Linked DNA regions of Homo sapiens: region 2 is linked to region 1. Evidence: fine-mapped expression QTL. A gene starts in region 1. The other region holds a variant in brackets. All regions are shown on one strand. Distances are between the middles of the regions. Region 1 holds the start of RPP38 (ribonuclease P/MRP subunit p38). Region 2 holds the start of LOC107984210 (a long non-coding RNA gene).

Region 1 (5,373 bases):
CCAAACAGATTTTACAGGATAAAACAACTGTCATTAAAAAGTAAAACTGGCAGGTGTGGTGGTGCACATCTGTAATCCCAGCACTCTGGGAGGCCAAGGTAGGAGCATTACTTGAGCCCAGGAGTTTGAGACCAGCCTGAGCAACATGGCAAGACCCCGTCTCTACAAAAAGTACAAAAATTAGCCAGGCATGGTGGCATGCTCCTGTAGTCCCAGCTACTCAGGAGGCTGAGGTGGGAGGATCACTTGAGCTTGGGAGGAGGTTGCAGTGAGCTGAGATGGTGCCACTGCACTTTAGCCTGGGCAACAGAGCAAGACCCTGTCTCCAAAAAAAAAAAACCGTTTCTTCAGAATAGGATATCAAATATGTAAAGTAATAATTTGAGAAACATGAAAAAGCGTTATGTGTAAAGAAAATCAGAAGACTTAATCTGTATTAGTTTAATGTAAAAGCATGCACATATGTGAAACAAAGTAGAAGGGAACACTAAAGAAAAAAATGGGTGTGATTGGGTCATGGGAGAATGTTTTTTACTTTTTGGTTGTAATGTTTGTGTGATACAAGAGGGACAGAAATTACTTTCGAAATGTACTTGTTAATTTTAGCAAAATCCTCGTGGAAATTATACTGCTAGTTTTAAAATAAAACACAAGCACTAAAATAATAAAGGTTATGTTTCATTTTTATTAACTTAGTTTTGCCACGGTTGAGACTGGATTTGCCATAGTTCAATTTATCAAGCACTTAACTATGTGTTCCGCACATAATAATCATCTTAGCATAGAGGAACATGTCTTCTAATCCGCACAAGAGATACTATTTTTATCACGTCATAGAGGAGGTTAATAAACTTGCCTAGGTCATAAGATCTTCAGTTGATGAAGTTAGGATTTCAACCCAGAGCCAAGTAATGTAATGGCTGATGTTTTCCACAGAGAAAATGTAAGCCGAGATGATGCTCAAACTATAAATCTGGAACCTTAGGGGGACAAAAACGTATGGATGTCTCCTTCCCATTACTTTAGCATTTTAATTAGATTCCTGTGTCTCTATTTGTCTTTGGAAATGCAAGCTGCTTGCAGTTCATCATAGCTAACTCACACAATTCATTTTATGAAACACAAACCTGTTCTCACAAACTCACTGTCATCTCTTTTTAATCTTTCTAATTGTGATAAAAATCATACTGCACTTTACCCTGTGTAACCTCCAATGATCTTTGACCAAAAGCCAAATCTTTTTTTTGTTGTGTTTACTTATGGACAGTTAGGTTCTACATAGGTACTTAAACATGAAAATTGAAATCATAGAGGCTGGGCACAGTAGCTCATGCCTGTAATCCCAGCACTTTGGAAGGCCGAGGTGGGCGGATCACCTGAGGTCAGGAGTTCGAGACCAGCCTGACTAACATGGTGAAACACCGTCTGTACTAAAAATACAAAAATTAGCTGGGCTGGTGGCCCGTGCCTGTAACCCCAGCTACTCCGGAGGCTGAGGCAGGAGAATCACCTGAACCTGTGAGGCGCTGGCTGGAGTGAGCCAGGTTCGCGCCATTGCACTCCAGCCTGGGCAACAAGGGCAAAACTCTGTCTCAACAACAATAATAATAATAAATAAAAGAAAGAAATCACAGAAACTATACCAGAAAATAGGATACAAAACCAACAGTGAGGAGATTGAGAAAAGGAGGCAGATACGTAAAGAGGAAAAGGAAGGGGGCCCAAGTAAGGCCGGAAAAAGCGGGGAGAAGGAGGAGGCTCATTAGGTCAGAAGCAACCTGCCGTCTTCTAAGTTCTGGCCAAGGGTAGATCAACAGATCCAGATTCCTGAGCTTTAAAATGTTATTCGGCCGCTTCATCACTTGTCCCCGACTTTGCAGCGACTCCGATGGTAGCCTGAGTCTCCATTGCTTGGAGCAGCCACAGTGGACACTGGACGGGATATTCTGTGCAGCTGTTGCTGAACTCAAGGCAACTCTTACTGCCTTTCTCTTTTCGGGCTCAAGATTCCCTGCATTATTGCCCATAGGCATGTGTTTTACCCCATACTCCTTCTCCCTTTTATCTTGATTTTCGCGGTGCTGGGGAGTCTGCAGGGATTCCATGGCGACGGGCTCACTGGGACAGGGGCTGGGGTTGTGCGTCCCTGAGGCAAGGCAAATACAGAAAAGCGAATAGAGACAGAGGGCTAAGATTCCAAAGCACTGAAAGGTAGAAACTGGGTTAGAAGAGAGAGGGGAGCACAAACGCCCGGAGAGAGCGAGCCCTCGGGATACCATTGGCTATAGGCTGGCCTCCGAACAACTGGACGGTCCAAGTCCTGAGCGTCTGGTTACCCGGGCAACCGCATGGTCTCGCGATACATACCTCGCGCCTGCGCACTGCCCCTGTAGCGGGGGTGGGGGGACCCGGTCCGGAGACTCCACCCCGGGGCCTAAACTCGAGTCTAAAAGATTGGGCCTCGTTGTGTCGTTTCCGGGTCGCGCGACGCTGTGGGCCGCTTTCCCCTCTCCGGAGTGACCTAACACAGGATAACGAAACCTGCACTGCTCCGAGCGCTTCCTCCCCGGCCCGTCGCGTCTGCGAGGCGAGGCCGGGAGGCGAGGGCTCTGCGCACGCGCGGCGCAGGCGCACTGGGCGCCGGTGCTGTTGCCTTCAGGTGACCACGGATTCGCCATCGTGAGTTCCAGGTGGGCGCGCGGGGCCCACGTAGGGCAGGAGGCCAGCCCCGGGGGGATCGGGCCCGGGACTCTGCGGAATCTGGAGGCCGAAGCCCGCGCGCACGCAGGGTCTCTGCTGCTTCCCCAACGCCTGTTGCGTGGCCGCAGGACCCGCCGCCCTCCCGGTTGGGCCGCCCAGTCCCGGGCCGGGCGCGTGCACCCAGAGCTTCCGCGTTTCTAGTCCGGCTCCTCTGCTGGATTGCAGCGCCGGCTGGGCACCAGGAGTACAAAGCGAAAACCCCCGCCGGCCCTTCTGTTCTCCACGGTCTCCAAGGAGACACGGACAACAGAACAACACTTCCGTGTGCTAAATAGTAAAGCACCAAGGTACTCGATCCAGGGGCGGCGTGCAGTGGGGAGGTGAGCTTTGGGTCGGCCGTCGCCCCTCGGCTACCGGCGGGATCCAGAAACCGGGAGTCACCACCAATACCGTTCTCAACTTTACTTCCAGCTGGTCACTACTGTGTCGGGAGATTCTACCTTCTTTTCCGACTAACATGTATTTTTCTCCAGTCCTTTCTGCGGCGTCTCTAGTGCAGGCCACCGTCATTTCTAACCTGGACGACTCCAGGAGCGTCTTTGCTGCTCGGGGACTCTTCCTTTGCCCAGATCCACAAAGATCTATAACGTCTTTCTAATCACGACACCTCTGCTTTAGATGTTAAAGTTGCTTCACACTGGAACGCTTGCAAAGGTCTTCATTATCTGGTCCTTACCCACCTTTCCTAGTTTCTCACCGCTTTCTCTAGCATCTCTGCCCCAGCCACATTGAACTTATTTGAACGTGTTTTTTTTTTTTTTTTTTTTTTTGAGACATAGCAGTCGCCCAGGCTGGAGTGCAGTGGCGCGATTCCGGCTCACTGCAACCTCCGCCTGCCGGGTTCAAGCGATTCTCCTGCCTCAGCCTCCCGAGTAGCTGGGACTACAGGCGCCTGCCACCACGCCCGGCTAATTTTCGTATTTTTAGTAGAGACGGGTCACCACGTTGGTCAGGCTAGTCTCGATCTACTGACCTCAAGTGATCCGCCCGCCTGGGCTTCCCAAAGTGCTGGGATTACAGGCGTGAGCCACCTCGCCAGCCAACTTATTTCTTTTAATACTGAGATACCTTTCTTTACTCCATACTTCCTTTGGTAGGCATTGTTTAGATGTAGGTTAAGAGGTCCGGCCCGGCGCGGTGGCTCACGCCTGTAGTCCCAGCACTTTGGGAGGCCGAGGCGGGCGGATCACAAAGTCAGGAGATCGAGACCATCCTGGCCAACATGGTGAAACCCCGTCTCTACTAAAAATACAAGAATTAGCCGGGCGTGATGGCCCGTGCCTGTAGTCCCAGCTACTCGGGAGTCTGAGGCAGGAGAATCGCTTGAACCCTGGAGGCGGAGGATGCAGTGAGCCGAGATTGTGCCACTGCACTTCAGCCTGGCGACAGAATGAGACTCCGTCTCAAAAAAAAAAAAAAAAAAAAAAGTTCCTCTGTGAGGACTGCCTTTTCCCACCCCCCTCAACTAAGCTAGGCCTCTGCTGGATGTTCCCTAAGCATACTGTTCCCTGACCTTCATGTGCATCAGGCTTTATTGTATAATTACTTGCTAATATTTTTTCCTCGTGGACTCTAAGCTCATGAGGTCTGTGAGAAAAAATACTTAATCTTTATGGCCTGGCACATCGTGGATAATCGATAAATATTTGTTGAAGAAAGGAAGGGGCCTGCGGCTGAGGGTGGGAGTGGTATTCCAGGCAGAGGGACTAATGTGTATAAAGACTTGCAGGTGGGAAAATGCTGGCCTCATTAAATAGTATGTTGTTCGGTGTTGAGGACTTGTGCTTGGTGGGGCCTAAGGAGAAAGAGGGCCTAAGTGGGAGATTGAGCTGGAGTGTGGAGGGCCTTTTATGTCACATTAGAGTTTAGGCGGGGCATGGTAGCTCATGCCCTCAATCCCAGTACTTTTGGGGAGGCCGAGGCTACGGGATTGCCTGAGCCTAGGAGTTGAAGACCAGCCCAGGCAACAAAGCAAGACCTTGTCTCTATAGAATTTCTTTTTTTTTTTTTTTTAAGACGGAGTCTTACTCCATTGCCCAGGCTGGAGCACAGTGGTGCAATTACGGCTCATTGCAGCCTCCGCCTTCTGGGTTCAAGCAATTCCCCTACCTCAGCCACCCACCTAAGTAGCTGGGATTACAGGTGTGCACCAGCACTCCTGGCTAATTTTTGTATTTTTAGTAGAGACTGGGTTTCACCATATTTGCCAGGCTGGTCTCGAACTCCTGACCTCAAGTGATCTGTCCAGCTTGTCCTCCCAAAGTGCTGGGATTACAGGTGTGAGCCACCGTGCCCAGCCTATACAGAAAATTTAAAAATTAAAAAAATTTTCTGGGCTTGGTGGTATGCGCCTATAATCCCAGCTATTCAGCATGAGGCTGAGGTGGGAGGATTGCTTGAACCCAGAAGTTCAAGGCTGCAGTGAGCCATGATCGAACGACTGCACTACTGCCAGGTGACAGGGCAAGACTGTCTAGTAAAAAGAGTTTGCCCTTGATCTACAGGCAGCAGAGGCCTCTTGAGACAGCTCTAAAGGGCCCTCAGCAAAGCCTATTTTTCTCTCTTTCTCTAAAGCTATAAAATCTTATCAGTCAGTACTTTGTTTCTGGATTA
Region 2 (5,373 bases), 39 kb after region 1:
CAGTGGTGTGAAATCATTGCTGTTTCACCAATTATTTTTCTTTTCTTTTTTCTTTTGAGACGGGGTCTCACTCTGTCGCCAAGGCTGGAGTGCAGTGGTGCAATCATGGCTCACTGAAGCCTTCAACTCCTGGGCTCAAGCGATCCTCTCTCCTCAGCCTCCCAGGTAGCTGGGACTAGAGTTGTACAACACAGTGCCCGGCTAATTGTAAATTTTTTTTGTAGAGACGGAGTCTCATTATGTTGCCCAAGCTGATCTCAAACTCCTGGGTTCAAGTGATCCTCCCACCTCAGCCTCCCAAAGTGCTGGGATTGTAGGTGTGAGCCACCACAGCTGGCCTATTTTGCCAATTAAATGAAAGGAGAAATCCTTTGTCATCCAGTGACAAAGATGACATTACAAAACAACAGTGATTCCGAGTCTCAAGGCCTACAATGCAGCCTTATCTTACACACTGTCATAAGCAATGTAGGTTTCATTCAACAGCCTTGGGAGGTGTGTTCTTTTTACTGCATTTCCACAAACTGGGAGAGGAAAGGGCTGCGGTGACCTCTGCCCCTCCCAGCAAAACCTAAAAATAATTTCAAGGCTGGTTACTTCTCCCCATCTAAACTGCTAGCAGCGTAGTTCAGGCCATCACAATTTCTAGTGATTTCCACCAAGAAGAGTTTTCCAAGTCCTTCTCTGCAGAGCTTCCCAACATGGTAGGACTAAAACCCAGGCTCTTCCCCATGGCTGCTGCCTGCCTCGGCCCCTCTCCACACCCTCCCTGCCCCCTGCTCCCAGTGCTCTGGCCATGATGACCGGGGCAGGCCTCAGCTCAGGGCCTTCCTGGTGCCTTCCTTAGGCTTGAGGCCCTCTGGTCCTCAAGGGACGGGCCCCTTGGAATTCCCGACAGAAGCTTACGCATCACACGTCACTTTCTCCCAGCATCTGTTGCTTAACTAAAGCCTTTCTCTACCTCAGTGTGGCCGCTCCTCCCCAGCCTGGCCACCTTTTGTCCTACTTTTCCACCACTGTTTCCAGGTGTGTGCCCTGGACTATGCCTGGCATTTAATAACAGACACTCAACAGACACCTGCTCCATGAGGGACCTTCAGGGCCTGGTCCTTCCATCACAGAACCTTATATACATTTTTAATACTCTAATGGGCTAGGTGCGGTGGCTCACACCTGTAACCCAGCACTTTGGGAGGCCAAGGCAGGTGGATCACTTGAGCCCAGGAGTTCGAGACCAGCCCAAGCAACATACTGAAACAGCGTCTTTACAAAAAAATACAAAAATTAGCCAGGTGTGGTGGTGTGCACTTGTGGTCCCAGATACATGGGAGGCTGACATGGGAGGATGGATCACTTGAGCCCAGGAGGTGGAGGCTGCAGTGAGCTATGATCATGCCACTGCACTCCAGCCTGGGTGATAGAGTGAGACCCTATCTCAAAAATAATAATAATACTAGTAATGTTTCAAGTGTGGGGAAATTGGATGTTTTTATTGGGATAGAAATTGGACTAAAATAATGGTTATCAAAAGCCAATGTCACTATCTAATATTTATATTTTCAGAAGAAAAATATTAGTCTTGCATAGATTTCCAATCTGTGGTATGAAATAAATGATACATGTGAAGTTAACACTCTTTGTGTTTTGTTGTTGTTGTTGTTGTTGTTGTTGTTGTTCATCCAGCTTTGTTTGTGGGGAAAAAAAGAGAAAAGCAGAAAAACTTACCTAGTTTTGGTACCGGTTGTGTGTCCCAAAACTGGTATCTGTGCTTTGCAGCCTCATCAATGTTCCTGGCTGGGCCCTGGCATGCGGATAGCAGCTCCATTGCTCTCTGGATATCCTGCAACTTCTGCATTGGAACACTGGGATTCTACGACAGCAAAGACAGACACAGAATATGAGAGAGCGGCTGCTGATGTTAAACTTGAGCAGACGCACGTGCATCTGCCTCAGAGACTACAATACCTAAACACTAACAATCCTCCTCCAAGCCCAGTCAAGGCCATGGGCTTGTGTGTTACACATGAAAATAGAAGCAAACCCTCTGTTAAAGGTAACAACAGTTGTCTAGTTTTATTGGGGCTCTGGCAGTTTGGGGAATCTAAATTGAAGCACGCTTTGCTTCAGTTTCCCATCCATCTACAAATGGTCCCCGGCATTACTCCTCTGGGGGAGACGTGCAGTGCATGCATTACTGTCATCCAACAGCCAGGCAGCCACGAGCCTTGGGTGGGGGGCACTGTCAGAGTAAATGCTCTGCAGGAGCAACGAGGGGATGAAGGAAAGAACTTCTAGAATGGAAACACAGCAGAGAAGGGAAGGGAAGGGGAGGGGAGGGAAAGAAGAGAGAGAGAGAAAACAAAGAAAGAGAAAGAGAGAGAGAAAGAAAGAGAGAGGATCGGCAGTGGTGTCTCACGCCTATAATCCCAGCACTTTGGGAGGCCGAGG[T/C]GGGCAGATCACGTGAGGTCAGGAGTTAAGAGACCAGCCTGGCCAACACGGTGAAACCTTGTCTTTACAACAATACAAAAATTAGCCAGGCATGATGGCAGGTAATCCCAGCTACTCGGGAGGCTGAGGAGGGAGAATCGCTTGAACCTGGGAGGTGGAGGTTGCAGTGAGCTGAGATCGCGCCATTGCACTCCAGCCTGGGTGACAAGAGCAAGACTCTGTCAGGAAAGGGAAAGGGAAAGGGAAAGGAAGGGAAGGGAAGGGAAAGGGAAGGGAAGGGAAGGGAAAGGAGGGAGAGAGAGAGAAGGAGAGAGAAAGAGAAAGGGAGAGAGACAGAGAGAAAGAAAAGAAAAGAAAAAAGGAGGGAGGGAGCGAGGGAGGAAGGAAGGAAGGAAGGTAGGGGGGAGAGACAGAGAGGGAGAGGGAGGAAGGAGGAAGGAGAGGGACAGGGGGAGGAGGGAGGGAGAGAGGGAGGAAAGGAGGAAGGAAGGACAGATGGAAGGAAGGAAGGAAGGAAGGGAAATCTGAACTCAGTGCTGAACTGGGATGAAAATGATCAAGAAAAGAAATCTCTAACCATGCCCCTTCCTCCCGGCCACACCCTGCCCTTCTCCTGACCCTCCTGATCCTCCTGATCCTCTAGAGACAAACTCTCCCACCAGAAGGACAAGCAATTTCCTCTGTACTTCAGATCCTGGGCAACCATAGCCTGTCGTTCCCAGCCCAAGTGTTGGAAACTGGACTCCTTTTTAGGTAAAACATTACGTTTGAATTCTAAGGTTCCTTTCTCAAAGCCAATATTCCCGCCAGCTCTTGGAGATTCCCCAGTTCTTTTTTTTTTTTTTTTAATTCCTCAAATAACGTAATAATACATGGAACATGAGACTACTTGAAATGAGAAGACAGCGCAGAGGACTGAATATGGAAATCAATGACTTTTTTCAATATGTAAAATTACTGAGACATTGTAGAACTTTGATACCATGCAAAGAATATTCTTCGCTGTAATTCAGAAAGTGGTTAGAAGTTTCAAGAGCCCTTCGGTTTTGCTGTATGTCAACACAGGGTGGACACCATTGAAAGGTACAATCGACCCTTAGAAGTTTATAAACAGCAACTTTGGACTTCTGTTCCACTTGGAATCTGAAATCTGTGGTGTGGAGCAATAATTTTAACTTGGGAAGCTTACTCATCGTACACAGCACAGAACAGGGTTTGTTTCATACAAACACTGTCAAGAACCCTAAGGAAACGAAGTTCTGAAGTCCAGCTGGAGGCAGGTGAAAGTCTTTTTGTCTCTGCTTGGAAGTCTCACAGCACAATCCAAGATGGCCACAGTTTTTGTAAGCTGTTTATCTTACATTTGTTTAACATCAAAATCATAAAGGTCCTATCTTAATGACACATACAAATTTAACAAAATACTTTTCCGGTTCTCATTATTATATCTTTGGATGACTTCTTTTCCTTGGGTGTCTTTTAAGTCCCCAACATTAAAAGGAGCAAATTTCTAGCAAAATGAAATTCATGTGTATCTGAACTCCAACAACACCATCTATTAGAAGACCTTACAATTTAAATAGGAATTGAGATCACAGCATATTTCAACTAATAATGCTTAACTGTGCATCAGTTTAGCTTAAAATGGCAAAGTAGAGCCCAGTCTTATAAAAATAGAACTACAATGACTATAATGAATTTGTCATGGTACTTTTTCTTTCTTGATTTAATTTTTTGTTCCTTGATTTCTTTCCTGGTTTCTGAGTTAAATCTTCTAACAGTAATATATCAAACTCAAACTATTTTGCAACAGACATGAATCAGCATCTTTGTTCCACATGACCCAATGACCAAAATGACCAACTCCATGAAGAAGACTTCAGAGTGATTTATTCCCTACCTAATTAGCTCATGGGTTGACCAGCACACCTCTACATGAAATGTCCCTTTGCGAAACATTGATATCCCAATGTTCACTATTTAAATGCTTTCTTTCTTCTTCTTCTTCTTTTTTTTTTTTTTTTTTCATTTTGAGGCAGAGTCTCACTCTGTCGCCCAGGCTGGAATGCAATGGCATGATCATGGCTCACTGTGACCTCCGCCTCCTGGGTTCAAGTGATTCTCCTGCCTCAGTTTCCTGAGTAGCTGGGATTACAGGCTTGTGCCACCACGCCTGGCTAATTTTTGTATTTTTAGTAGAGACAGGGTTTCACCATGTCGGCCAGCCTGGTCTTGAACTCCTGACATCAAGTGATCTGCCCGCCTTGGCCTCCCAAAATGTGGTGATTACAGGCATGAACAACCACATACGGCTCTATTTAAATGCTTTCTGAAAGTAGATTCAAATAAACACAATTTCCAAATCCACAGGGACAAAGCAGTAAGGGAAACTCAGCTATGATCATTTCTCATGCCTGTCCATTCACCTTCCATAGTAGCACTACCTGGGAAGAATGAGTGTGCATCAGGCAAGGTGAGATGAATATCTACCCGACATTAACTTCCCACGATTCCACTCCTATATAAGAGGCAGGTATATTCTCTTTTTCTTCCACACATGCTTTCTGTGGCATACTAACCAGCAACTATACTCTTTACCCATTGTTTTCCAAATTTAATAGTACCTTGGAAAAAATGTCCAAGTTTTATAACACTAAGAAGTTTATAAGAATCCAAATATCATTTTTATTTTGGTTCTTGTATGTAGACCAGAATATTCTGCAATGCAGTCCACTGTAATTTACAGTGCTATCTAGAGTTGGCATAAGCTTAAAGGGAAAGAGCCCCAGATTTTAAAAATGCAGCAGAAAAAAGCCCATCTTAAGACAATACTGACTTCCTCCAAATTAAGAAAAGAAATTCCCTACTGTGATGGTTACTACTGAGTGTCAACTTGATTGGATTGAAGGATACAAAGTATTGGTC

What was found. PIP is the estimated chance that this variant, and not a neighbour inherited with it, causes the effect. A credible set is the group of variants that fine-mapping cannot tell apart.
Region 2: its variant is the best candidate, but not a certain one, in a credible set for the expression of RPP38 in skeletal muscle (GTEx, PIP 0.65).

The regions. Positions count from the first base shown.
Region 1 is chr10:15,094,720-15,100,092 of GRCh38, forward strand. RPP38 (ribonuclease P/MRP subunit p38) reads left to right here and starts at 2,636. Exons shown (of 3, transcript NM_183005.5): 1 at 2,636-3,047. It overlaps RPP38-DT (RPP38 divergent transcript), which reads right to left and starts at 2,600. Exons shown (of 2, transcript NR_160789.1): 1 at 2,368-2,600; 2 at 666-2,146. RefSeq lists enhancers at 2,181-2,752, 3,054-3,143, 3,204-3,343 and a silencer at 2,554-2,913.
Region 2 is chr10:15,133,549-15,138,921 of GRCh38, forward strand. NMT2 (N-myristoyltransferase 2) reads right to left here. Exons shown (of 12, transcript NM_004808.3): 3 at 1,726-1,870. LOC107984210 (a long non-coding RNA gene) reads left to right here and starts at 1,870. Exons shown (of 2, transcript XR_007062067.1): 1 at 1,870-5,373. The variant T/C (reference allele first, on the strand shown) is at 2,449.